7 linked regions of the Homo sapiens genome follow. The protein of the gene in region 1 purifies or fractionates together with the protein of each later gene. This does not show direct contact. Each region holds a gene or a part of one and is shown in the gene's direction. Other genes may lie near its edges. The genes, in order: SRXN1, FGL1, CCDC102A, UNK, THADA, TPM4 and TOM1L2.

Region 1 (4,118 bases):
GGTGCGCACGGGAATTATGTTTCGAAAGGGAAAGGCTGGAGTCTTGGTGTCAGTGTTCTAAGGTTTTGTGAGAGACTAAGAACCCAAAATAAATGATCTTCAACAGCAAAATGGATGTTATGCAATTCACAGAGCACTATGAGCACTCTCTCAATTCACACAACTTTGAGTGATGGGCAGCATGACTTCATTTTACAGACGGGGTTCAGAAAGTGTCAGCAACTGGTGGAAGGCAAAGTAGAAACTCCTGGCTCCCTCCTTCGTCTCCAGTTTTCTCCAGCTGGCAGGGTAAGTATGCATTTCTCCATGTTCGTGCCATTCAGGTTGAGAAGGAAGACAAGCAAACCAGACATGCTTGTCTTCGACCGAGTCTGGGATCGTCCACCTTCCTGCTTGGAGTTGGTGGTTAAGTGGCCCCACAGTTTGGACTCGTGTGACCTGACTTTCATTTCAGCTGACCTTGAACAGCGGGTCTATAACTGCACCTACTTCCAGTAGTGTTGTAATGACACAAACAGACAGTGTGGAACTTGAAGGCAGGGCCCACCCATTGTCAGCGCGACTCCTGAGGGCTCCGTGTGACAGTCACTGTTGCTGAACCAAGGCAGCCAACGGTGGGGTAGAAGGCGGACTCTGGAGCCAGACCGTCTGGATTTGAACGCGGATTCGGCCACTTACTAGTTCCGTGATCTTGGGTACATCACTTAAACCTGTGTCTCAGTCTCCTCTTCTGTAAAATGGGAATAACAGTCATACCTTCCTTGCAGGGTTGTTTTGAGGTTCAGATACGTTAATACACGTGCAAAATGTTCGGAACGACTCCAGACACAGCCGGCGCCAGACTGGAAGTGGAACCGCTGGTGGGGATCATAACCTCGCTGGCTAGGAACCCCAGCAGCGGGGCAGCAGCGCACCGCGGGCTTTGCCGACTCACCCTGGCTGGGCAGGTCCGCCGCGCTCTCCCCCGCCCCCGCCCCCGCGGCCTAAGTCGGCCCGGCCGGTGCGTCACCCGCGCCCCTCCCGCCCCGCGACCTGCAAACTCACCCTGAGTCAGCCCGCCCGGGCGTTTCCACTCCCCGGACGCCGCGCGGCGCAGGGGAGGCGAGAGGCGCCCCCCGGTGGAGAGCCTGAGCCCCGCGCGAGTCTGGCGGCACCTGGCGAGCGGAGCCGGAGTCGGGCTGGGGACCGCGGGGTCGAGGCCGGACCGCGGCGGGGTCGGGGGAGAAACGCGCGCTGCCCTGGCACGGGCCCCCCCCCCCGGCCGCGCGGAATGGTATGGCCCGGCCGGAGTTAAGGCCGGGGGGAGGCGGCGAGTCCCGCGGCGGCGGCGACGATGGGGCTGCGTGCAGGAGGAACGCTGGGCAGGGCCGGCGCGGGTCGGGGGGCGCCCGAGGGGCCCGGGCCGAGCGGCGGCGCGCAGGGCGGCAGCATCCACTCGGGCCGCATCGCCGCGGTGCACAACGTGCCGCTGAGCGTGCTCATCCGGCCGCTGCCGTCCGTGTTGGACCCCGCCAAGGTGCAGAGCCTCGTGGACACGATCCGGGTGAGGCCTCGGGGAGTCCAGCCAACCGGAGGGAGGGCTTCGGAGGAGGGAGGTTGCCGGAGGAGGGAGGTCGCTGCGATGGACGCGAGACGGACTGGTTCCGGGCCCAGCCGGAGCTCAGCCTCTGCTGTGTGACCTTGAGCAAGTAGCTGGGCCTCTCTGGGCCTCTGTTTCCTCACTTGAGCAAGGAGGGAATTGGGCGAGATAATTAAAGTAGTGATGATAACGCTTATAACGCTAGTGCTTGCAGTGGTCCAGGAACTGCAGGAAGTCCCTCAGTTTCCTATGCCAACCCTAGGAGGTAGATAGTGGCTCTTTTGCAGACGAGAACTGAGGCAGGGAAGATTTCAGCGGCTTGACTAAGATCAGGCGCTTAAAAAGTGACACGGCTGGAATTCACACCCAGGCAGCCTGGGCCCCACTGCCCAGCACATGGCCACCGCACTACCCGGAGATAAGCCGTGGGCTCTCATGGCTGTGACAGTCAGTGACAGTGGGACTAGGTGTGTCATATCTGCTGGGAGGCCCTTGTCTGAATGGGAAGTGGGAGAGGTCAAGGGTCAGCTCCACCACTGAGGAAGGGTGTTAAGAATACCGGAGTGATTCTGGCAGGAACTTGGGGGCCCCGCAAGAACAGGTGTCAGGTTAGGCCTACATAACGTTGTGTCCCCTTCCCCCGACCCTTGGAAGGTGAGCACATGAGATCCCTAAGCCCCACCCAGCACCTCTACAGCCACCCCCGATAACTTTCAGTCCTAGTATTTACACTAGTGTCCTCACTGCCTGGAGCCACTTCCCCAGACAACCACAGGGCCTGCTCCCCTGCCTGGTTCAGCTCTCTGCCTCCTTGATCACCCTTGGTCAGAGTCACTGGCCTCTCTAGCTCTCCCCTTAGCCCGAGATGTTTTTCAGGATACCACTTATGTCCACCAGAAATTATATTATACATCTATTTGTGTTGCATTTTATTTTCTGTCTTCCTGACCTCACGTGCACTCCACAAGGGCGAGGACCTCGTCCCATCTTATCTGTTGCCACAATAGTAGCACGGCGCCTGGCTGAGATGGGAAGGGATCTGCCATGCATGCCCTGTCCCACCACTGGGCTTTTTCTCCCGTTGAGAACCTCTTCTATCTCTGCCTTGTCGTTTCTCACTCTTTCTCGGTCTTCCTGTCTCAGTGTCAGGATCTTCCCTGACCATCCCTACCGGGTTAGGAGCTTCTGTGGGCCTGCAGCCACCTGTGTGCCCACCTGCATAGCTCTGATCTCACTGGCTTTTTTTTTTTTTTTTTAAGACGTTGTCTGGGTCTGTCACCCTGGCTGGAGTGCAGTGGCACGATCTTGGCTCACTGCAACCTCCGCCTCCCGGGTTCAAGCCATTCTCCTGCCTCAGCCTCCCAAGTAGCTGGGATTACAGGCGCCCACCACCACGCCTGGCTAATTTTTGTATTTTTAGTAGAGATGGGGTTTCACCCTGTTGGCCAGGCTGGTCTGAAACTCCAGACCTCAAGCGATCTGCCCACCTCGGCCTCCCAAAGTGCTGGGATTACAGCCCACTGGCTTTTAACGTCCTGTCTAGACACCTGCCTTCCGTGCTAGAACCGTAGGCTCTGAGGGCCAGAACCAGCTCTGCCTTTGCTTACATACACCTGTATTAGTTTTCTGGGGCCACTGTAAGTTACCACAAAGTTGATGGCTTAAAACAACACAGGTTTATTTATGGTCAGAAGTCCAAAATGGGTCTTACTGGGCTAACACCAAGCAGGGCTGCACTACTTTCTGTAGGCTCTAGGGGAGAATCCATTTCCTCGCCTTTCCCAGCTTCCAGACGCCACCCACACTGCTTGGCTTATGGCCTCTTCCTCTGTCTTCAAAGCCAGCAACATCAGGCCAAGGCCTTCTCACATCGCATCACTCTGACCTCTTCCTCTACTTCCTCTTCCAGTTTTAAGGACCCTGATAATGGCATTCGACCCATCTAGATAACCTTGGATAATTTCCGCATCTCAGGATCCTTACCTTAATTCTGTCTGCCAAGTCCCTTCTCCCATGTAAGGTAACACATTCAGAAGCATTCGGGCGTGGACATCTTTGGGAGCCATCATTCTGGCCATCCACCATCGTGCCTCCAGTACCCGGCACAAGGCCTGCCTGGCACGGCTGCCCTCCTTAGTGCTCCACTAATGCCCGGTAGGCATCAGCTCACTGACTCTTCATCAGCAGCCCTCTAGGATGTTTTATTCCCAGTTTACAGGTGAGGAATGGTGTTCAGAGGGCTGTGTGCCCCAGCTGCTGTGGAGAGGAGCTGAGATCCAAAGTCAGGTGTGCCAGGTTCCAGAGCTCAGGCTTGTGACTGCTGCACCTTACTGCTGAATAATCATTTGTGGAATCATGAGAGAGAACCCGTGGACCAGCAGCAGGAGGCCTTCCACGCCGCTCACACTTAATGGGGTCTCCCCAGAGTGCTCTACCCTGCACCCGTCCTGCCCCAGACTTTCCCTGTTTAGAGGATGACCTACTCTCCACCTGGCTGTGTGGGCCCCTAACAGGAAGTCAACTTAGATTCTCCCTTTTC
Region 2 (3,500 bases), on another chromosome or scaffold:
ACCACCGCTCTGACAATGGGCAGGGAAATTTCGGTAAGCTTCTTGGGAAAACTATTGTCATATTTATAATGCCTGCTTTTATCTGAATTTTCTTTCATTTTGCATTAAACCTATAGTGACTTGTCATTGAAAAAACTTAACTATGTGGGAAAAGCAAAGAGGCTGGTAGAAATACTGGACACATAGTAAAGCAGCACTTTAAAGCGCTTTACATTTTTGCAGGGGAGGCCGAGATGGGTGGATCACAAGGTCAGGAGTTCGCAACCAGCCTGGCCAATATGGTGAAACCCCATCTTTACTAAAAAAAATACAAAAAATTAGCCGGGCGTGATGGCACGCATCTGTAGTCCTAGCTACTCGTGAGGCTGAGGCAGGAGAATCCCTTGAACCCAGGAGGCGGAGATTGCAGTGAACTGAGATCATGCCACTTCACTCCAGCCTGGGCGACAGAGTGAGACTCCATCTCAAAAAAAAAAAAAGTGCTTTACATTTTTTTAAATAAAAAGTATTCATAATAAATAAGTAATTTTTAAAAATTCACTGGAGTTATTTGGTTGGAATATTAGAAATTTGAAACTGTCCATAGTAATTAAAATTAACCTTGAGCTTTTCAATATTGAAAAGTGTAAAACTAACCAGATTATTTGAAAGTAATTACATCGAACTTGTGTTGTCCTTCATTTGTGAATAAAAAAGACAAAACATTCATTCAAAGTTCTTGGAGAAAGAAAACTCCTAGGTTTTAAATAAGCTTACTAAATATGCGTATGCAATCTCATAAAGATTGGGCATACTTGACCTGTGATGTCTTCAATTATTTTAAAATTGCATAGTGCACTATGTTTAACAATATCACAACCGATCCCCCACTGTTGTAAAACAACTCAGGACCCAGACACCATAAAATGTTCTTGCTGTTCATTTTTTAGCCTATGTGACTCAAGGTGCTAAGCAAATAACTATCTCAGAAGGGATAAATCTGAGTGTTAGGGATAGAGTAACAAGAACAAATAAGAAGTAATCCTAGAGAGGCCTGGTGCAGTGGCTCACGCCTGTAATCCCAGCACTTTGAGGGGCCGAGGTGGGTGGATCGCTTGAAGCCAGAAGTTTGAGACCAGACTGGGCAACATGGCAAAACCCCATCTCTACTAAAAATACAAAAATTAGCTGGGTGTTATGGCACACAACCTGTATAGTCCCAGCTACTTGCCAGGATGAAGCACAAGAATCGCTTGAACCAGAGAGGCAGAGGTTGCAGGGAGCCGAGATCGCACCACTGCACTCCAGCCTGGGCAACAGAGCAAGACTCTGTTGAAAGAAAGAGAGAGAGAGAGAGAAGGAATCATCCTAGAAAAATGGCTGGGAGAGGTTCTGTGACTTGGACCTAGGGATGGGAAGAAAGGAAAGAAAGAAAAGAAAAGAAGGAAGGGAGGGAGGGAGGGAAGGAGAAAGAAAGGAAAAGAACAAAAGAAAAGAAAAAGAAGAGGAGAAAGAAATCATTTTAGAAAAATGGCTGGGAGAGGTTCTGTGACTTGGACCTAGGGATGGGAAGAAAGGAAAGAAAAGAAAGGAAGGAAGGAAGGGAGGGAAGGAGGGAAGGAGAAAGAGAGGAAAAGAACAAAAGAAAAGAAAAAGAAAAGAGGAGAAAGAAATCATCCTAGAAAAGATATCTGGGAGAGGTTCTGAGAAAGGAAACGTAAGGGAAGAGGAAGGGAAAGGGGAAGGGGAAGGAAAAGGGAGAAACCATCCTAGAAAAATGGCTGGGAGAGGTTCCATGACTTGGACCTAGAGATGGGAGGGAGGGGAGATGTACTACATATATATATATATAAAAAATATATATATATTATAGACTATATAAATATAAATGTATTATATATGCATATGTATTTGATATAATATATACTATATAAATCCATTATGTAATTTTATATATACGTATATTATGTATAAATATAATATATTATATAAAGTAGACTATAATATAATAAATACAATTATATTACATTATATTATATATAAATATATTTAATATATTATATATTATTTATATTTATATATTATATAATATCTATTCATTTATATTCATATATATTCATATTATATATTTTGTAATATATATTATATATTATTATTATATTGTATATTATTTTATATATTATATATTATTATTATATTATATATTATTTAATATATTATATATTATTATATGTTATTTAATATATTATATATGATATATATGATATATTATTTAATATATTATATATGATATATATTATATATTATTTAATATATTATATATGATATATATTATATATTATTTAATATATTATATATGATATATATTATATATTATTTAATATATTATATATGATATATATTATATATTATTTAATATATTATATATGATATATATTATTTAATATATTACATATGATATATATTATATATTTAATATATTACATATGATATATATTATATATTTAATATATTACATATGATATATATTATATATTTAATATATTACATATGATATATATTATATATTTAATATATTATATATGATATATATTATATATTATTTAATATATTATATATGAGATATATTATATATTATTTAATATATTATATATGAGATATATTATATATTATTTAATATATTATATATGATATATATTATATATTATTTAATATATTATATATGATATATTATATATTGTTTAATATATTATATACTATATATTATATATTGTTTAATATATTATATATTATATATATTATATATTATTTATATGCATATATAATATATATAATATATAATATACATTAAATATACATATTTAAAAGTATTTATACCAGACAGCCATTCAAAAACCTCATTTATTATGGAGATTTACATGCCAACAGTACAATTAACTTCTATAAACCACATTACTGTTTAGAAAACACATAAGCAATGTCATATAGAGATTGAGAGCACAGTCCTTGAACTGAATTTGAATCCCACCTCCGCTTACCCACTGGGCATCAAGACTGAGCCCTTTCCTACCGCATGGAATTGTTATGAGGATCAAAGGAGACAACTATAAAGCTCCTAGCATAGCGATTCCAATTATTTTATATTATTTGATCTTTTGAGTCCAGGAGTTTTCGCATAAGCCATAATTTCCAATTCTTCAAATAGTAGGCAGTATTAGAACTTTTCAAGCCACTTTCTCTTTGGAATAATATTCTGAAATGGGAACTGGAGACAAAATGGAATCACTGATTTATCCAAATGTTTAAAAAGCACTTGTTTTCCATGAAAATGAGGTGCATACTCATCTCATCTCACCTGTTTTGCAGGCGCTCGAGGACTGTGCCCAGGAGCAGATGCGGCTCAGAGCCCAGGTGCGCCTGCTTGAGACCCGGGTCAAACAGCAACAGGTCAAGATCAAGCAGCTTTTGCAGGAGAATGAAGTCCAGTTCCTTGATAAAGGAGATGAGAATACTGTCATTGA
Region 3 (3,500 bases), on another chromosome or scaffold:
GTGTGTGAGTGCAGGTCCCTGGGGGTGTGTGTGTGAGTGTGTGCATTACTGGGGCTGTGTGTGAGTGCGGGTCCCTGGGGGTGTGTGTGTGAATGTGTGCATTACTGGGGCTGTATGTGAGTGTGTGTCCCCAGGGCTGTGCTGTATGAGTGGGGCAGGGTAGGGGGAGGCGTTGCAAGGCAGGGTCTGGCTGCCCTTGGGTCTATGTGGGAGTGCAGGATTCCTGGTGTGCTGGGGGCGGGGTGGGCTTCTCCAGAAAACTCCCCTGAGGACCCCGACCCCCACCCCTTCCCACACACCCGCTCCAGGGGACCCTGGGCCTGAAGTGCAAAGGTGGGAGTGCTGTTCCAAAACTTCCGTGCTCCTGCTGTGCCCTTTCCTTCTCCCCCAGCCCCTAGGAGGGGCCTGGCCAGGCCGCTGGGAAGGAGAATGAGGTGAGTCTGGAGCCCCCATCTCTGCCTTTAGCATGGGTGCCTGGAAGCCATTAGAGACCTGGGTGGTGCCTGCCCTGGCCCTGCCCAACAGGCTTGGATTCCTGGAAGAAGCCGGTGGCCCTCTCTGGGCCAAGCCCTGTGCCAGGCCTGGCAGCTCCCAGAGGCAGGGAGGATGTGGCAGTGGCCCCCTCCCTGCCAGGCTCCTAGTTCAGCGGCTGCAAGAAGGGCCCAGCAGACAGGGCCCGGGCCCCCATACCCAGCACAGCTGCCGGCTGGCATTCGGGTTTCCTGCCTCCTCCTCCTCCTCCCCTCCCCCCACAGGCTCTCACATTGTTTTTCTTTTCCAAGAGCTTCTCTATGTGGAGCTAGGCCAGGAAAAGGAGGAGTGTGTGTGTCTGCCTCTGTGTGTGTGTGTGTGTGTGTGTGTGTGTGTGTGTGTCTGCTTCACTTGGGGATGAGCATGTCTCCTTGCATGTCCTTGTACCTGTGTGTCAGTGTGCTGGCATATGTGTGTCTTCAGGCGTGTCTGTGTCTACAGGCAAATGTCTCTCCATGCACCCGTGTCGTTGTGTGCCTGTCCGTCCATCTGAGCATATGTGTGTCTGCCCCTGGGTCTTTGCATCTGTGCATGGGATTGCATGTCTGTGTGTGCACAGATGTTTGTGAATGCACATGGGCATCAAGGCCAGCCAGCTCACTGCACAGGCGGAGAGACTGGGTCACAGAGGCACAGGCTGCTAGGGATCTCCTGGGGTGTCAGTGGTGTACATGGAACCAGAGCCTGGATCTGTATGGCTGTGTCTGGGTGCGTGACACAGATGTTATCAGGGTCGGGGTGTACATGTTGTGTTTATGGAACTGTGGGTAGTAAGAAAGCATCGCCAAATACTCAAATATCCCAGACTATTAAAATGCAAATTCCAAGCTCCACACCTAGCAAACATGACTCTCTCGGGTATAGGGCCAAGTGTCTGGGTGAATCTGAAGGACACCCTGATGAAGAAGCACTGGTCTCTCTCACACATCCCCCCTTCTACACATGGGGAAACTGAGGCCCAGAAAGGGACAGTGGCTTACATGAGGTTGGTGTCAGAGCTGGGCCTAGACCTCATGCATGGTAAAGGCAGACAGACAATAAACAAACAGCAAATGGCCTAGAGAAATGCAGCGGGGTCGCTGAGCAGCACGGAGGAACCTTGACAAAAGGTCATGAGTTTTAAAAAATACTGCTCCACGTGGTGGTGTAGACCTCCAATGCCTGGCTCCATAGTTGAAGGTAAGAGTGGGCAAAGCAGTGGAGGGAACAGGGTTGGCGTTTGCCAGGAGAAGCCAGAACAGGAGGGGCCTAGGGCACAGAGGGTGCTGGCAAGGGAGAAATTAGGAGCACAGAAGGTGAGCTGGGAAAGAGAGGGACATGGGGGTGGGCAGTGCAGTGGTGGGATCAGTGGCTTGCGGCTCCTGCTGGGATTGGAGAGTATTTGGAGTTGAGTCCTAGAGGGAGTAACCTTAGAATTGAGGCTAGGGAGGAATCAGTATTGGTAATGACACAGGGAGGGGCCATCAGAGTGGTCAGGTTCTTACAAGAACTCACTCTGGCTGTTGCTGTTGAGAATGGATTTGAAGGAGGTGAAAGTGCATGATGGGCAGGGAGGTGGGTGTGGGTACTGTTACCCAGGTGAGTGAAGGTGGTGTGGACCCTGACAGGTTAGTGACTGTGGACAAAGAAGGTGGATGGAAGGCGGATGCACAGCAGATAGACTGACAAGGTTTGGCGGTGGGTGGGGGAGGAAAGAAGGCAGATTTCAGGGTGCCTTCAAAGCTGGAAGGAGTGAGGAAGTGCCTTCTCTGGAAGGAGTGAGGAAGTGCCTTCTCTCGGAGGAGCACCCAGGAGGAGCTGGTCACGGGGGGAATGGAGGCAGCAAGTTCTATTTTAACCAAGATGAGCCTGAATCATCTATCAGGCATCCGGTTGGAGGTATGGGAAGCTCTGAGGGCAACCTGGGCTGGAGAGGGACTTGGAGTTGGGGACATAGCGAGATGGCTCGGGCAGGGATATCGTGAGAGGAGAAGGGGGCCCAGGGCCCGATGACAGCCGCATTCGAGGGATAAGCCCAGGGGGTTCACCTGGGAGGCTGACGAGCAGCTGGAGAGGAGGGGAAACCTGGAGAGGAAGACGTGGAAGCAAGTGAGGCAGGGAAGCAGGTGCCACGGTGGGTCCAGAGGGCACACCGTCACAGGGGACTGGAAACCAGCCTGGCACAGGTGGCCGGGTGACAGAGCGCCAAGCAGGTAGACGGAGTGGAGACGGCGAGTGTGGACCACTTTGGAAGGACCTTAAAAGGGAGGTGCCAGGGGAGGGGAGAAGAAGGTGTCAGGAGACACTTCAGCAGGGGTAAGACCCCTGGAAAGGACGTCACTGGCTAGGGTGGGACTGGCAGGAGGGAGGCCTTCGGCTCAAGGAAGGAGAACCCCTCTGTCCTCTCAGGGGCAGAGAGGAGGGGGCCGTGGGGCTTGACAGCTTCCTTTTTCACTGCAAATCATGACGATAGATCATCTGCCGAGAATGAGGTGGGTTAGAGATTGGAAGAAGGTGGAGAGGGGACATAGAGGGCTGCCAGGCAGCCTTGGGGACAGCCAGTGCCGAGTCCCACCGACAGTACACTGATCACTCAGAAAGGGTGGGTCTTAGGGGCAGGTGTGAAGATCTGTGGACCAGGGCTCTCTGCCTAATGGGGAAGGAAAAGTGTGATGTCCCAAGGGGCTGTTGGTGGGTGGCAGTCAACAGAGGCCGCAGTGGAGGGAGACTGGGGACAGAGAGGGACATGCCTCTCATTTATTTTAAGGAGGAGGGGGGCATGGCCCATAAATGGCAGAGCCCAGTGCTGGGCGATGGGGAGGCTGAAGTGAGACACAGAGAACAAGAGAGCTGTTTGCGGTGAGTCACGGTGTCAGGGAGGGGTGGTTCCGGCAGAGAAGGGGAGAGAACATCCTGCTGCACTCTCAGAAGCCCTTTCCATCTGAGGACTGGTTTGTTTCCATCATCATCCCCAGCGCGTGCGTTCATTC
Region 4 (3,500 bases), on another chromosome or scaffold:
ACCTGCTATACACCAGCCACTGAGTGCCCAGAGACCCGCCCACCCCCACTGATCCCGGGGCTGAGACCCTTGAGTTGTAACATCAGGGGACAAGACCCTTGTCCGAGGCAGGGACCCTGGATGGGGATGTGATTTCTCCTGGAAGTATCAAAGAAGATTCAGAAAGGAGAGGCATTTGGGTTGGACATGACTGGCAGACGGTGTCAGAAGTCAGGAGTCAGGATTGGCATAGGAAGCAGCTGAAGGAAGGGCACAGGGGCTTGGGAGAATACGGACCCAGCGTAGCATGGGCGTGAAGATGCAGCGTGGGCAGTAGACGAGGTGGTCAGGGTCAGATAGTCCCTCGGGAGGTCACATCCCACTCTTCTCTGTCCCTAGAGTCTGCTTTGGATGACCTGGACCTGAATGAGTTTGGCGTGGCCGCCCTGGAGAAGACTTTCGATAACAGCACAGTGCCCCACCCAGGAAGCATCACCATCGGTACTGGGTGTGGGTGGGCAGGGCAGCCTGGAGGACTCCTCGGGTTCCTGCCTGGCTCAGGCCCCTTGCTCTGTGTGGCCCGCCTGGCTTCCGCTGCCCTCACCCAGCCCGTCCTCCCCGGGCCTCTCTTGCAGGCGGCAGCTTGCTGCAGAGCTCTGCACCCGTGAACATCCCCGGCTCCTTGGGCAGCTCTGCCTCCTTCCACTCAGCATCCCCGTCCCCTCCCGTCAGCCTCTCCTCGCATTTCCTGCAGCAGCCCCAGGGCCACCTGAGTCAGTCGGAAAACACATTTTTGGGAACCTCAGCATCACATGGATCTTTGGGTAAGAGAGGGAGTGGTTCACTCAGGAGAACTGGGGCAGGAACCTGCGCCTTTAGGAGGTGCCTCTGGCCACCCCATCTACGGCATATCAGCTAGGCTGGGGGTTAGGGCAGAGGCCTTGGGCGAGGAGGCAGAGTCAGATTCCTGTCTGTGTGACCCTGGACAAGTGATTGAGCCTCTCTGCCTTAGTTTCCTCTGCTGTGAAATGGGTATAACGGCAGCATCCACCTCCTAACGTTGTGAGCATTGAATGGAGTAATGGGGCTGAAGTGCTAGGCACGAGGCCAGTGCAGGTGAGAGCAGGGGTCTCAGTTGCCAGGGCTGGGCCTGGTCTCTTTCACAGCATGGTTCTGTTCTGCCCAGTCACCCCAGGCTCCGAGAGGCTGGCTCGCACCAGCCAGGTTCACAGGGGACCAAGGGAGAAGCCAGACAGGTTAACCCCTGGCTTCGGGTGCCCTTCCTGCCGGGCAGAGGCTCCAGGGAGGCCCAGGGCTGGCCCAGAAGGCTGTTTGCCCACAGAATTAGAATGGTATGGAATGGGGGTTTCTGAGGGCACTTCAAGGTTTAGTGGCTAGAAGAATGGCACAGAGGCCTGTGCCACTGCGGGCCGGCTGTGCATCTCCTCTTGTGTGTGTCAGGGGATGTTCCTGAGGGCGGGATGGGAAGCACATGGCACCACCGCTCTCACTCTCCCCCAGCAGCTGCAGACACCAGGAGCTCCCTCCCCGAGAGTGCCAGCATTTTGCTCGGGCCCAGGGAATGAGCCCTTCAGAGTTCTGATTGGGTTTGGTGGCTTCCCTTATCTCATTCCTGATCCCAGAACAGCACATGGATTTCTCAGCGCCTTCCAGTTTGAAGAGGCTGTTCTCTGTTACGTTGATTCTGTCAGCTTTAGGTGCTTGGTGTTGCATTTTTCGGACTTGCCCCATATTCGGATAGGATCTGTTTTTTTTTTTTCGAGTAGGGTCTCAGTCTGTCACCCAGGCTGGAGTGCAGTGCAGTGGCATGATCCTAGCTCACTGCAGCCTGGAACTCCTGAGCTCAGGTAATCCTTCCACATCAGCCTCCTGAGTAGCTGGGACCACAGGCGTGCACCACCATGCCCAGCTTCTGGTGGCGTCTAGACTTAGCTCCACTTACTGGCCACACACTCCTTCCTGCACCATGTGACTATTGAGCACAGGTGTATTGATACAGGTGTAAGTGCAACAGTCCCTGCTGTCCAGCAGCTGTGGCCAGTGTGGGAAGCAGAGGTGCCCAGCCATTGGGATCCTCCTGAGAATCATAGAGGGGCCTACCTGGACAGCAGAGTCAGGAGAGCTTCTCCAAGGGAGGAGGAGAGATGGGTGGGACAGGAGAGCTTGCTGCAGGGCTGGTCTCATGTGGGTGGGGTGACCCTGAGGTCTTCCTCTGGGATGGGGCAGATGGCTCAGACAGTGCATGCCACAGGGTCTCCGCACAGGACCATGTCCCTCCTCTGTGGGTGCACTTGTGTGTCTCAGAGAGCAAAGCGTCTTAAATCTGGTTCTGGAACATCCTGGTTGGATTAGTGGGAAAGGGAGCAAGGAAGAAGTCACCAGAAAGTACATATGGGCAGAGTGAGGCCAGAGGTGGATATGGGTCCTTCTCGGAAGCCCGGGGCTGCCCTGGGGGCCAGAGCAGGGGGACCTGATGTTAGTAAACATCTGTTGAGCGAGTGAGCAGAGGGCAGCTGGGTTGGCGGTGGGTGGGAGGCTGTGCACGCAGCATAGTTGACTGGAAAGCATAGGCCTTTGGAACCACACTCCCTGTCTGTGTCCTGGCCCTACCACTTACAATTTGTGTGATTCTTGGTAAAACATTTTATCCAGGGTCCTTGTCTGTAAAACAAGGGGGATGGCCCCAAGGCTCCCTGAGCTCTTCCTGCCCCAGCTCTGCCATCCGATGAGGCTCTGGCCTGTCTTTTCCCCTTTATCTCTTCCTGGGCCTCACATCAGGCTGCAAAAAGGCCCTAGCCTAAAAGTGAAGCCACAATCATAAATTGCCACTATCGGGGGCCTGGGACTGCTCTCACATGCAGTACTTCCTGAGTCCCCTGAGTTACCCGGTGAGGCCAGTGTGGGAGTCCCATTTCCCACATGAGGGTGCTGAGCCTCGGAAGTTGAGTGGCACCAACTAGCAGGTGTCACTCAAGGTTAGGTCTGACTCCGCCCACGCCACCTGCACCTTCACAGCCTTCCTGTCCCTGCAAAATTCTCTGGCCTGACACTAGCTGGAGCCTTGCACACCCATCCAGTGGACAGCCAGTCCCTGGAACCTCTGAGGCAGGGCTGGCCAGGGCCTGGGCCCAAAGCCCTCCGGAGCTGATGTTCTTCCCCTCCTTGGGGCAGGTCTGAACGGGATGAACAGCAGCATCTGGGAGCATTTTGCCTCTGGAAGCTTCTCCCCGGGCACTTCCCCCGCTTTCCTATCAGGGCCAGGGGCTGCCGAGCTGGCCCGACTTCGGCAAGAGCTGGATGAAGCCAACAGCACCATCAAGCAGTGGGAGGAGTCCTGGAAGCAGGCCAAGCAGGTACCAGGCCCCGTGCCTGCCGGCCTTCCCCAGTGCCAGGTGGCATCCAGCCCAAGACCTTCCTTCACAGAGTGGGCGTGGGGTGGGGGAAAGCGGGGGCTGGAAGAACAGAGCAGAAACTCAGTTTTGTTCGCTCGCTCTCCCCCT
Region 5 (2,844 bases), on another chromosome or scaffold:
AGGAGATCGAGACCATCATGGCTAACACGGTGAAACCCCGTCTCTATTAAAAATTCAAAAAAAATTTAGCCGGGCGTGGTGGCGGGTGCCTGTAATCCCAGCTACTCGGGAGGCTGAGGCAGGAGAATGGCATGAACCCGGGAGACGGAGCTTGCAGTGAGCCGAGATCCCGCCACTGCACTCCAGCCTGGGCGACAGAGCGAGACTCTGTCTCAAAAAAAAAAAATGGTGCAGGATAGAGGCTACCTGTCCTGTCAGGTGGGGCTAGTGCAGCAGCCTAGCCTTCCTTGGTGGCATCTCTGGTCACCCCCATAGGTTCTTTATGGACTCAACAGGAATGTCACTTGAGCTGCAGATACTGATTTTGCTGATGGATGATGAAATTTTTTTCTTCCCTGTTGGGCTTTCAGTCCTTGCCTTAAGGAGACCATAAAAAAAGTGGTGGGAGGCCAGGTACAGTGGCTCATGGGTGTAATCCCAGCACTTTGGGAAGCCGAGGGGGCAGATCACTTGAGGTCAGGAGTTCGAGATCAGCCTGACTAACATGGAGAAACCCCGTCTCTACTAAAAATACAAAATTAGCCGGGTGTGGTGGCGCATGCCTGTAATCCCAGCTACTTGGGAGGCTGAGGCAGGAGAATCTCTTAAACCTGGGAAGCGGAGGTCGCGGTGAGCCGAGATGGTGCCACTGCACTCCAGCCTGGGCAACAAGAGCGAAACTCTGTCTCAAGACAAAACAACAACAACAAAAAAGTGATAAGCTGGGCACAGTGGTTCATGCCTGTAATCCCAGCGCATTGGAAGGCTGAGGCGGGTGAATCACTTGAGGTCAGGAGTTCAAGACTAGCCTGGCCAACATGGTGAAACCCCATCTCTACTAAAAATACAAAAATTAGCCAGCCATGGTGGCAGGAGCCTGTAATCCCAGTTACTCAGGAGGCCGAGGCAGGAGAATCGCTTGAACCCGGGAGGTGGAGGTTGCAGTGAGCTGAGATCACGCCACTGCACACAAGCCTGGGCAATACAGCAAGACTCAGTCTGAGAAAAAAAAAAAGAGTGATAAACCCACTGGGTGCAGCGGCTCATACCTGTAATCCCAGCACTTTGGAAGGCTGAGGTGGGTAGATCACTTGAGGTCAGGAGTTTGAGACCAGCCGGGCCAACATGGTGAAACCCAGTCTCTACAAAAAATACAAAAATTAGCTGGGCAAAAACAAAATTATCTGGGTGTGGTGGCACATGCCTATAGTCCCAGCTACTTGGGGGCTAAGGCAGGAGAATTGCTTGAACCCAGGAGGCGGAGGTTGCAGTGAGCCAAGATCACGCCACTGTACTCCAGCCTGGGCAACAGACTCTGTCTCAATCAATCAATAAAAGTTGAAGGGAAAAAAGAAAGAAAAAGGCCACTTAATTATCCCTTCTCTATACAGATTCTCAGCCAATTGAGAACTGCAGAAAGGAGTTAGGTAGAGGTAAAAATGGAGATTGTATTGTAGGTAGAGGCCCAGTCAACACATGGCTCAGACCCACAGCCAAAATGCACCTTCACCCCCTCCCCTTTTCTGTTTCCTGGTTTAAATCTGGGTTCTAGGCTGCAGAGCAAGCAGCATGGGGAACGGGGACACTAAAGGGCAAGTGTCCTGGGGGACTTATCTGGAGCTCTCAAGATGGTGAGATCAGTACTTTCACCTGCTTACATGCAACTAGGTGCTGCTGTGTGACCTCTGAATAGTCCTGGCCCTACTGCAGGGTCACTACCCCTGCTGACCCCACCATCAAAACCTCTGGATTGTTGATGCTGGGTCTCCAAATCTGCGCTTTGCATGCACCATGAAACTTGTTGCCAACTGTAATTTCTTGATGTGTGCAAGTGGGTTACATAATACCCAACCCATAGGATGCTAGAAGGACTGGGGAGACAGCATTTGATCAGGGCCTGGCACTCACTAGGCCCTCAGTGGGGCCATCCCAGTAAGCCTGGTTCAACACCCACGGGAACTAAGCCTGCTGTTGCAGATTCTCGGTCGTCTGCCTGTGTGCCGAGTAAGTCTTTCGGGGGCCAGATGGTCAGGGTAAGTCTGTGTGCTCAAGTTAGAGATGTGGATTTGGGAGTGATCAGGGCTCAATAGAAATGCATCATTGAAAGACAGGCCTTTCAATGTCAGTTGGTGCAAGATGGGCCTACAGAGGTCCATTGTGCAGTGGGCTTTCAGTCCCGTGTTTCAGACACCCTCCAGGTTTGGGATGGGAGGGGCAGAGTTGTTAGGGGAAGTGACAACACCCCTGAGCCTCCCTCCAAACCCATATTTAGGATTGTCTAAGGCCAAATGTTGAAATAAGCAATGGTTTCCCCAAGGCCCCCTGCTTCCTCTTTCTGCACCCTTCTATTCTTTCAGTGCCCTTCCTCCAAGCACCCAGGAAAACAAGGGTCCAAAAACAAAAAACTCCGAGACAGAGGGCAGCAAAATAGGAGCCAAATGCAGCCTACCACCTGCTTTTTACAGCCCATGAGCTATCAATGGTTTTTACATTTTTAATTGGTTGGGAAAAAATAATATTTTGTGACACATTAAATTCAAATTTCAGTGTCCATAAATAAAGTTTTATTGGAACACAGCCACAACCATTTGTTTACAGATTGTCCATGGCTGCTTTCAGCCGAGGTGAGGAGGTATAGGCTTGCAAAGTCTAAAATATTGACTCTCTGGCCCTTTAAGGAAAAGCTTGCCGATGCCCTGCTCTAGGATGTGTCTTGTGCCCAAGAGATCTGCTTTCCAAGGAAAGGGCAAACCAGTCAAATCCAGGCAGATGTGCAGAGGAGACACTGGACAGGGAAGCCTTCCT
Region 6 (4,108 bases), on another chromosome or scaffold:
TCTTCTTGAGCCAACTCTAGACCGGTGTGGTGGGGGGTGACAAAGAGAGGTGATGGGGTCTGTGGTTTGTAATCCATAGGCCTGAGCTTCTCAAACTAGGAGTGATGGGAGGATAGGACTCTTGGGATAAACAGAGGACTGAAAATTTAGGGAAAGTAGGGGACATTTTTATTAAAATGAACATGGCCTATATGCAAAAATTTTAAAGATTTAACCCGAGCCTTCAAAGAAAGTGATCCTGTAGGGGCGAGTCTCTTCTAGCCAAGCTCCCCAAAGCCCAGAAATGAGGGACTAGGTCTGAGCCCTTCAGCCCTTCAGAGTATTTTGGTAAGACAGTCTAAGAACCACTGCCTTGGGCCATAGGGAGCCATAGCAGGTTCTAGGCAGAAAGAGGGCAGGCGTATTTGTTAGAAAGTTTCTCTGACCCCGTGTTGGGGTCAGAACCAGAGGGAGAAAGGCTGGGGACAGGGATGGGCGGAGGGATCCACGCGCAGAGAATGAGATTGCTTAACTCCAGATCATGGTGAGGCTGCACCTCTGAAACTGGAATGTGTGTATTTCTGGAAAACATTTGGAGTCTTCAGTTTCCCAAAAGCTGCCATTGATCTCCCTAGAGTACTGGGGACCCCAATAAGCCCAAAACAGCTGGTCCTCAGGACGAGGGAAAGATGTGAAAATCCCACTATCAGGTAGCATGGATGGCGTGGTGCATGCTATCGCAACCCCTGTTCTACAGATAAGGAAACTGATGCCCAGAGAGAGACGGAGGACTCTTGTGAATATTGGGGGGGACCGCCCCTGCACCTCGGGGACGTGACCCCCCCCCCAGGCTGACCCGTTCCTCGCTCTGTCGTCCCCAGGTGGAGGAGGAGCTGACGCACCTCCAGAAGAAACTAAAAGGGACAGAGGACGAGCTGGATAAATATTCCGAGGACCTGAAGGACGCGCAGGAGAAGCTGGAGCTCACGGAGAAGAAGGCCTCCGACGTACGTGTGCAGGGATGCGGGAGCCCGCGGCGGGGCCAGGCCGGAGCCCCGGGGCCGGGAAGGCGGGGAGAGCCGCAGGGGGAGGAGGAAGAGGAGGAGGAGAAGGCGGCGCCTCCCAGCGCTTTCTCCAAATAAGTCCCGAAAAGGGGCACTTTCCAGCAGCTGTGGCCAGCGGTGCCGACGTCAGGCCCTCCCCCAGCGGTGCTGACGTCGGCGGTCCGGCCGGGTGACCTCATCGCCCCGACGGCAGCCGGCCCGGGGGGCGGGGAGAGGCGGGGGCGGCCCCCGCGCAGGCAAAGGCTTGGGGGGCCGGGGCGCGGCTGTGCAGCTCTCGCCGGAGCCGAGCCCAGCCGAGCGTCCGCCGCTGCCCGTGCGCCTCTGCGCCTCCGCGCCATGGCCGGCCTCAACTCCCTGGAGGCGGTGAAACGCAAGATCCAGGCCCTGCAGCAGCAGGCGGACGAGGCGGAAGACCGCGCGCAGGGCCTGCAGCGGGAGCTGGACGGCGAGCGCGAGCGGCGCGAGAAAGTGAGCGCCCCGGCCTCGGGCCCCGCACCCGCAGCCTCCTCCCCCGCGCGCCCTCCTTTCTTCCCGGCTTCCCGCGCTGCCCGCCCGCGCGCAGTCCTCGGGCCGCCTTTTTACGCCCTCGGACGCCGATCGCCGACCCACATCCCTGCGCCCGCAGCCAGGACCCCCTACTTCCTCCGCCGTCCTCCTTCCTGGGCCTGGGACAGGGGAGGGGGCGCCGCCTCCGGGTCGGGCGGGGCCGGCCAAGCGGGAAATGGGGGGATGGGGCGGAGGGGGTGAGCGATCTCCGGGTGGAGAAGTGGAGCGGCGGGAGGGGGCGTATCGTGCAGGCTCCGACTCCGGGGCTGGCGCCGGGGTCCCGGGCCGAGGGGAACCCGCGACCGGACTTGTGGGGGAGAATGAGGATGAAAACGTGGAGCTTCCATTGTCTAGGGTTTGACCGGCCGACAGGGATTTCGACGGGGGACCGGGGATCTGGGGAGGGGGTCGCACTTTCTCGCCTCTTTCGCGGCTTCCCGGCTTCTGCTTGCTTCCCTGACCGTTCCCAGGGGCGCGGCGGCGACGTGTCTGCTCCAGGCGGCGGGGGGGATGGGGGGTGGAGGAAGTTCAGCCCCAAGCCGCCCGCCTTTCTCCAGCTGATTCCTGCGGGAACCGGGGCGGCGGGACCCTGCCTCTCTCCAGAAGGCCCCGGGAACGCTGGCGCGGGGCCCTGAACCCACGATCGTTTGAGCGCCTGCTGTGCGCCTCCGCCGCGAGTCGCAGGGCCCGAGATAAACAATGGGTCTGAAAAAGGAGGGAGTTTCACCATCCTCTCTGCATCATCCTCCTGGCTGTCCCTCGGGACAGATGGTGGCACCGCCAGGGTCTGGGGACAGATTTGGATTCTGGTCCCATATCATGCCACCCACAGGCTTCATGACTTGGTATTTGCTCTCTAGGAGCTTTTTTCCCATCTGCGAGTAGGACTGATAAGAATCCCGACCCCCCAGAGTAGCAGGGAGGGTCCCAGGAGTAAATCTCAGGCGTGGAGCCTGGCGCTTTGTAAATAATCAATTGTGTTGTTGTTTTTTGTTGTTTTGTTTTTGAGGCAGTCTCACTCTGTCGCCCAGGCTGGAGTGCAGTGGTGCGATCTCGGCTCGCTGCAACCTCCACCCCCCGAGTTCAAGAGATTCTCCTGCTTCAGCCTCCCGAGTAGCTGGGATTACAGGTGCCCGCCACCACGCCCAGCTAATTTTTTTTTTTTTATTTTGGATTTTTAGTAGAGACAGTGTCTCACCATGCTGGCCAGGCTGGTCTCGAACTCCTGACCTCGTGATCTGCCCACCTTGGCCTCCCAAAGTTCTGGGATTACAAGCGTGAGCCACGGCGCCCAGCCTCAATTGTGTTTTCTCTGCCCTGGGAAGAGCTCATAGACAAATGGAGGCAGGGGAGCTGACTCACTGATGGAGCGAGGTCTGCATTCCACGGGTTTTCTGTGCAGTTATGGGAGCATGACAGGGGAGGCTCCAAAATGGAGGTTGAGCTGGGTCTTATAGAATAAATAAGTTTGCTGGGACCAGAGACATGGGTGTGCACAGACTCAGAGGCAAGAAAGTTGTATGATGAGGGTGGGGGGGTGTGCGGATAGAGGTTGAAGCCCAAAAGCCCTGAAAGTTCAGTGTTGAGGCTCAGGGTGGGGACCCTAGAGAGGCAAAAGATGCCCAGCCAGATGGAATTGGTGGTGTGAATTGCCAGGACTGGAAAGAGCCCAGATGGGGGCTGCAGCATGGGCCTTGGTTGAAGCCTCTAATCCTGTAAGGGCTGCTTTGGCCCAAGAGGCCTTAGAAACCCGGTGTAAGCCTCAATCGGTAGCCGGTCTGGCCTCTTTCTCACACTTAACCGACACAGCTCTTGCTCTGATCTCATCCCAAGTCATCTCGCTGGAGGACAATTAACTCGGCTTCAAAATGGCCCTCAGCCTGGAGCCAAGATTTAGGAGCAAGACCGTCTAGTTGGGAGAGAAGATGTTTTTGGAGAGTTGAAGACTTCTTGAAAAAGTTCGAAAAGTTCTTGAAAAAGCAAAGGATGCTTCTTTCCGTCTGGGAGAGGGAAAACCTCTCCCAGGGCAAAAGGAACTAAGACCAGGGGTGGGTTAAAAAAAAAAAAAAAAAAACCTTTCACTCTTGTAGAATAAGCCAGGAGCCGGCGTGTGGTAGACTTCTGGGCCTGTTTCCCGACAGCTGGTTTCGTTTAGATTTTTGTGTGATTAACTGACATCTTCCTGTTCCTTTGCCACATGTATCTAGCAAGCCTCTTTTACCTTATAAGGGAAATCCTTTGTAGCGTGTGGAAGGCTTTGATTGCAGGAAGGGGTGGAACCCAAAATGACTCGGCCGTGACTAGCAGTTTTTCAAAAATACATATATATGTATGCATGTACAGATATGCGTGTATCTCCCAACTCCAGACAGCTGAAAATCTGCCAAAAGCGTTGTTTGCCAGGATTCAGAATTTCCCACATAAGGGCTACTCACTTCTTAAAAGACAACTCATGAATCAAGCACCTCTGTTTGATCTTTAAAATCAATTCCTCGACTGCTAATGGGTACACAGTTTTT
Region 7 (3,500 bases), on another chromosome or scaffold:
GATCCACCCACCTTGGCCACCCAAAGTGCTGGGATTACAGGTGTGAGCCACCATGCCCGGCCCCGTTTTTGGGGTTTTAAAAAAAGTTTAATGTTGTATTCCTATGTGCCAGAGACTGAAGTGGGCACTTTATACATCTTGCAGTCATTCGATCCTCACAACAATGCTGTGAGGAAGGTACTGTGATTATCTCCATTTTCAGATGGGGACATTAAGACAATGAGAAAGTATGGAACCTACCTAAGGTCACACAGCTAGCAGTGAGGGAGCTATAGTCTGAATGCAGCATTCTGGCTCCAGAGCTGGTATCCTGTCACGCTGTGCTGCCCTCAGCAAGAGTAAAGTGAGGAGGAACACTGTAGGAGGGAAGGAAGAACTCAGGAAAACTCTGAGGAGGTGGTGTCTGCTGAGCAGGGCTTTGATGAATGGGGAGGATTTGGTTTGTGTAGAAATGGAAAAGGATGTTTGGTTTCTTGGCAGAGACAACTTGAGCAAATGCTGGATGTTAAGAGGTAGGCGGGGGTGATGGGATTTATTCTGTGTGCCTAGCAAAGGGGAGTGATAGGGGGTGAGACTGGGAAGGGAGGATAAGGCCTGATTGTGTGGAGGGCTTGCTTCATATGTTGGCTAAGTAGTTTGAACTATATTTTAGAGGTACTGGGGAGGCATGAAAGACTTCTAGGGAGGGGAATAGCATGGAAGCATGAATATCATTACAGAGGTAGGGAGATTTCTCCTTAGCAGTCACCAGAAGATCATTCTCTCTACCATGAAAGCCCGCTTCTGTGCAGAATTGGGGAGGGAAGGTGGGGGAAGGAGGGGGGATGTCAGCTGTGGTCAAGGGTAGGGACACTGTCTATGAAGCCCCCTCAGAAACAGAAAGGTGCCAAGGCAGGTTGATGGAGCATTGAGAAGAAGTCTAGTCTAGAGCATTTGTCCTTAATTGCCTGGACAGGTCTTAAAACCCCTGACATTGAAAGTCACGTGGGGCGTCAGCCTGCTCCTCCTCCTGCTCTGTTTATCATATGCAATGACAGGGCTGACCTATTCCCAGGGCTTTTCTAGAGGAATGCCACTGCTTAGGAGTGGGCTATCGGAATATCTAAAATTCTCATATAATTGTGCTTTTTATTTATTTATTTTTTTTGAGACAGGGTCTTGCTTTGTCGCCCAGGCTGGAATGCAGTGGCAGGATCGTAGTTAAAGCCTCAACCTACTGGGCTCAAGTGATCCTCCCGCTTCAGCCTCCCAAAGTGCTGGGATTATAGGTTTCAGCCACTGTGCCCAGCCTTTCATTGTGCTTTTTACAAAACGATGTATAACCGATAGAAAATATGAAAGATATAGAAAAAATGCAAAGGAGAAAAAAATCTCCACAATGTGCGTCCTCACAAATTTGTTGAGATGCTTATTTCACATAATGGAATACTTTTGTATTTCACTCTTCATCTTCTCATGCCTTGAAGAGGCGACATTGTAGAACAACTTTTAGCATATTTCTGTATAATCTACATTTATTTATTTATTTACTTGGGATATTAGGAAAGGAAAACGGTGTAAATACATTGCCCAGAGGAGCATCAGTTAGGGGTTGTTGCTCTTGACCTAGCAGATAAATCACCCAGAAATGTTGCGCTAACCTAGTAGTCTGAGAAGATATAAATAACATTCAGGCTTTTCCTGCTGACCCGGCTTGTTGAGGTTAAAAGAGGCGACTTTTAAAACCAGTCTCAGACTTGGTTACATATGTTATTGCTCCCTCCAACCTTCTTGATTTAGGAGATTCTCTGCTTTTCTCCATTCAGTCATCAAGCCTGATGCCCATCAGCCCTCACCTCTTCCTACAGGCAGCCTTCCTAGACCACCCTGTTTATGGTGATGAATCTCTTCTCTGAGCTCACAGTGCTTGCTATCCATATCATTCATTTGGCTCTTCTCTTATCTATAAAACAGAAAATATTACTTGTCCTCCAGGTTTTTGTGACGATTAAATGAGATAATGTGCTTAAAATCCCTAGCACGGTGTCCTGCAATCAACTAATATAGACTTCTTGATTCCTTCCCTCCACTGTTACTGTTGTTATTTATCTTGTGTTATTTATCATGTGTTTATTGCCATACCTTCTGAATAAGGCTGGAGGCTCCTCTACTTTCTGTTTCCTTGTGACCTTCACAGCACATGGTAGAGTATATTCTTCATAGTTATTCACTCTTTTTGTCACTGGTATTTAGCATCTTTGAAAGCTAACATTACTAGCCATCATTTCCTGGCCCCTCACCATGTGCCAGGCACCTTGCTGAGTGCTGTGCATACTTATCTCATTTAAAAATTTTTTTCTCTGGAAGCACTGTTATCTTCATCTTACAGGTGAAGAAATAGAGACTTAAAGGGGTTCAGAAACTTGCCCAAGGTTTCCTGGCTCAAGTAGGCGGAGCGGTCCTCTCCAGCCAGGGGCTCTAGCTCCAGCGTTTTTCTTTGTTCATGTTGCCTTTTAGACATCAAGCATGGTCTGTTTCCATTTGGACAAGAAGGAGCCTAAACTGATTTCAAATAGGAATTCCAGAAAGATAGCATAGTTCCACCAATAGGAATGTGGATTCCCATTGCTCTCTCTTTGTTCTCTTCCAGCACTTAGCACTCTTTGTTCTAGATTGGAGTCAGTCCCATCTTTGCTTCTCGATGCGACTGCTTTTGTATGAGTCCAGTAACTGTGCTAAAACTCAGTTTCCCAATCTGTAAACTGTGGTGGTGAAGGGAGTACAAGAACACTTGCACCATCACATCTTACAGGGGTCAAGTGAGTATGTAAAAGCAAAATGTGTTGTTATGTTTTACATCATTTAGACTAAATGTTCCATGAGGGCACCTGTTTCTATTTATTCTTTAAAAAAAAAACCTGATAAAATATATATAACAAAATTTACATTTTTTTTTTTTTTGAGACGGAGTCTCACTCTGTTGCCCAGGCTGGAGTGCAGTGGCACGACCTCGGCTCATTGCAACCTCTGCCTCCCAGGTTCAAGCGATTCTCCTGCCTCAGCCTCCCAAGTAGCTGGGACTACAGGCACGCGCCACCACGCCCAGCTAAATTTTTTGCAATTTTAGTAGAGATAGGGTTTCACCATGTTGGCCAGGTTGGTCTCGATCTCTTGACCTTGTGATTCCACCCACCTCAGCCTCCCAAAGTGCTGAGATTACAGGCGTGAGCCACCACACCAGGCCCAAAATTTACAATTTTAACTGGTTTTAAGTGTGCAGTTCAATGGCATTAAATATATTCACATTGGGCCAGTCGCGGTGGCTCATGCCTTTAATCCTAGCACTTTGGGAGGCCGAGGCGGGTGGATTGCCTGAGCTCAGGAGTTCGAGACCAGCCTGCGCAACACGGTGAAACCCTGTCTCTACTAAAATACAAAAAAATTAGCCGGGCATGGCAGTGTGCGCCTGTAGTCCCAGGTACTCGGGAGGCTGAAGCAGGAGAATTGCTAGAGGAGGAGGT

What was found.
Region 2: the proteins of SRXN1 (region 1) and FGL1 purify together in Homo sapiens (co-immunoprecipitation; one large-scale study listed by IntAct). This does not show direct contact.
Region 3: the proteins of SRXN1 (region 1) and CCDC102A purify together in Homo sapiens (affinity purification with mass spectrometry; one large-scale study listed by BioGRID and IntAct). This does not show direct contact.
Region 4: the proteins of SRXN1 (region 1) and UNK fractionate together in Homo sapiens (co-fractionation; one large-scale study listed by BioGRID). This does not show direct contact.
Region 5: the proteins of SRXN1 (region 1) and THADA fractionate together in Homo sapiens (co-fractionation; one large-scale study listed by BioGRID). This does not show direct contact.
Region 6: the proteins of SRXN1 (region 1) and TPM4 fractionate together in Homo sapiens (co-fractionation; one large-scale study listed by BioGRID). This does not show direct contact.
Region 7: the proteins of SRXN1 (region 1) and TOM1L2 fractionate together in Homo sapiens (co-fractionation; one large-scale study listed by BioGRID). This does not show direct contact.

What each region holds. Positions count from the first base shown.
Region 1 is NC_000020.11:650,401-654,518, reverse strand, and holds the start of SRXN1 (sulfiredoxin-1), read left to right. Parts: upstream 1-1,318; 5' UTR 1,319-1,333; coding exon 1,334-1,543; exon of another isoform or gene 1,544-1,566; intron 1,567-4,118. UniProt on the Homo sapiens protein: Contributes to oxidative stress resistance by reducing cysteine-sulfinic acid formed under exposure to oxidants in the peroxiredoxins PRDX1, PRDX2, PRDX3 and PRDX4. Does not act on PRDX5 or PRDX6.
Region 2 is NC_000008.11:17,882,025-17,885,524, reverse strand, and holds part of FGL1 (fibrinogen-like protein 1 precursor), read left to right. Parts: coding exon 1-33; intron 34-3,345; coding exon 3,346-3,500. UniProt on the Homo sapiens protein: Immune suppressive molecule that inhibits antigen-specific T-cell activation by acting as a major ligand of LAG3. Responsible for LAG3 T-cell inhibitory function. Binds LAG3 independently from MHC class II (MHC-II).
Region 3 is NC_000016.10:57,530,072-57,533,571, reverse strand, and holds part of CCDC102A (coiled-coil domain-containing protein 102A), read left to right. Parts: intron 1-3,500.
Region 4 is NC_000017.11:75,819,306-75,822,805, forward strand, and holds part of UNK (RING finger protein unkempt homolog), read left to right. Parts: intron 1-378; coding exon 379-480; intron 481-614; coding exon 615-803; intron 804-3,171; coding exon 3,172-3,353; intron 3,354-3,500. UniProt on the Homo sapiens protein: Sequence-specific RNA-binding protein which plays an important role in the establishment and maintenance of the early morphology of cortical neurons during embryonic development.
Region 5 is NC_000002.12:43,233,195-43,236,038, reverse strand, and holds part of THADA (tRNA (32-2'-O)-methyltransferase regulator THADA), read left to right. Parts: intron 1-2,844. UniProt on the Homo sapiens protein: Together with methyltransferase FTSJ1, methylates the 2'-O-ribose of nucleotides at position 32 of the anticodon loop of substrate tRNAs.
Region 6 is NC_000019.10:16,075,187-16,079,294, forward strand, and holds the start of TPM4 (tropomyosin alpha-4 chain), read left to right. Parts: upstream 1-1,308; 5' UTR 1,309-1,379; coding exon 1,380-1,511; intron 1,512-1,829; exon of another isoform or gene 1,830-1,944; intron 1,945-4,108. UniProt on the Homo sapiens protein: Binds to actin filaments in muscle and non-muscle cells. Plays a central role, in association with the troponin complex, in the calcium dependent regulation of vertebrate striated muscle contraction.
Region 7 is NC_000017.11:17,962,401-17,965,900, reverse strand, and holds part of TOM1L2 (TOM1-like protein 2), read left to right. Parts: intron 1-3,500. UniProt on the Homo sapiens protein: Acts as a MYO6/Myosin VI adapter protein that targets myosin VI to endocytic structures. May also play a role in recruiting clathrin to endosomes. May regulate growth factor-induced mitogenic signaling.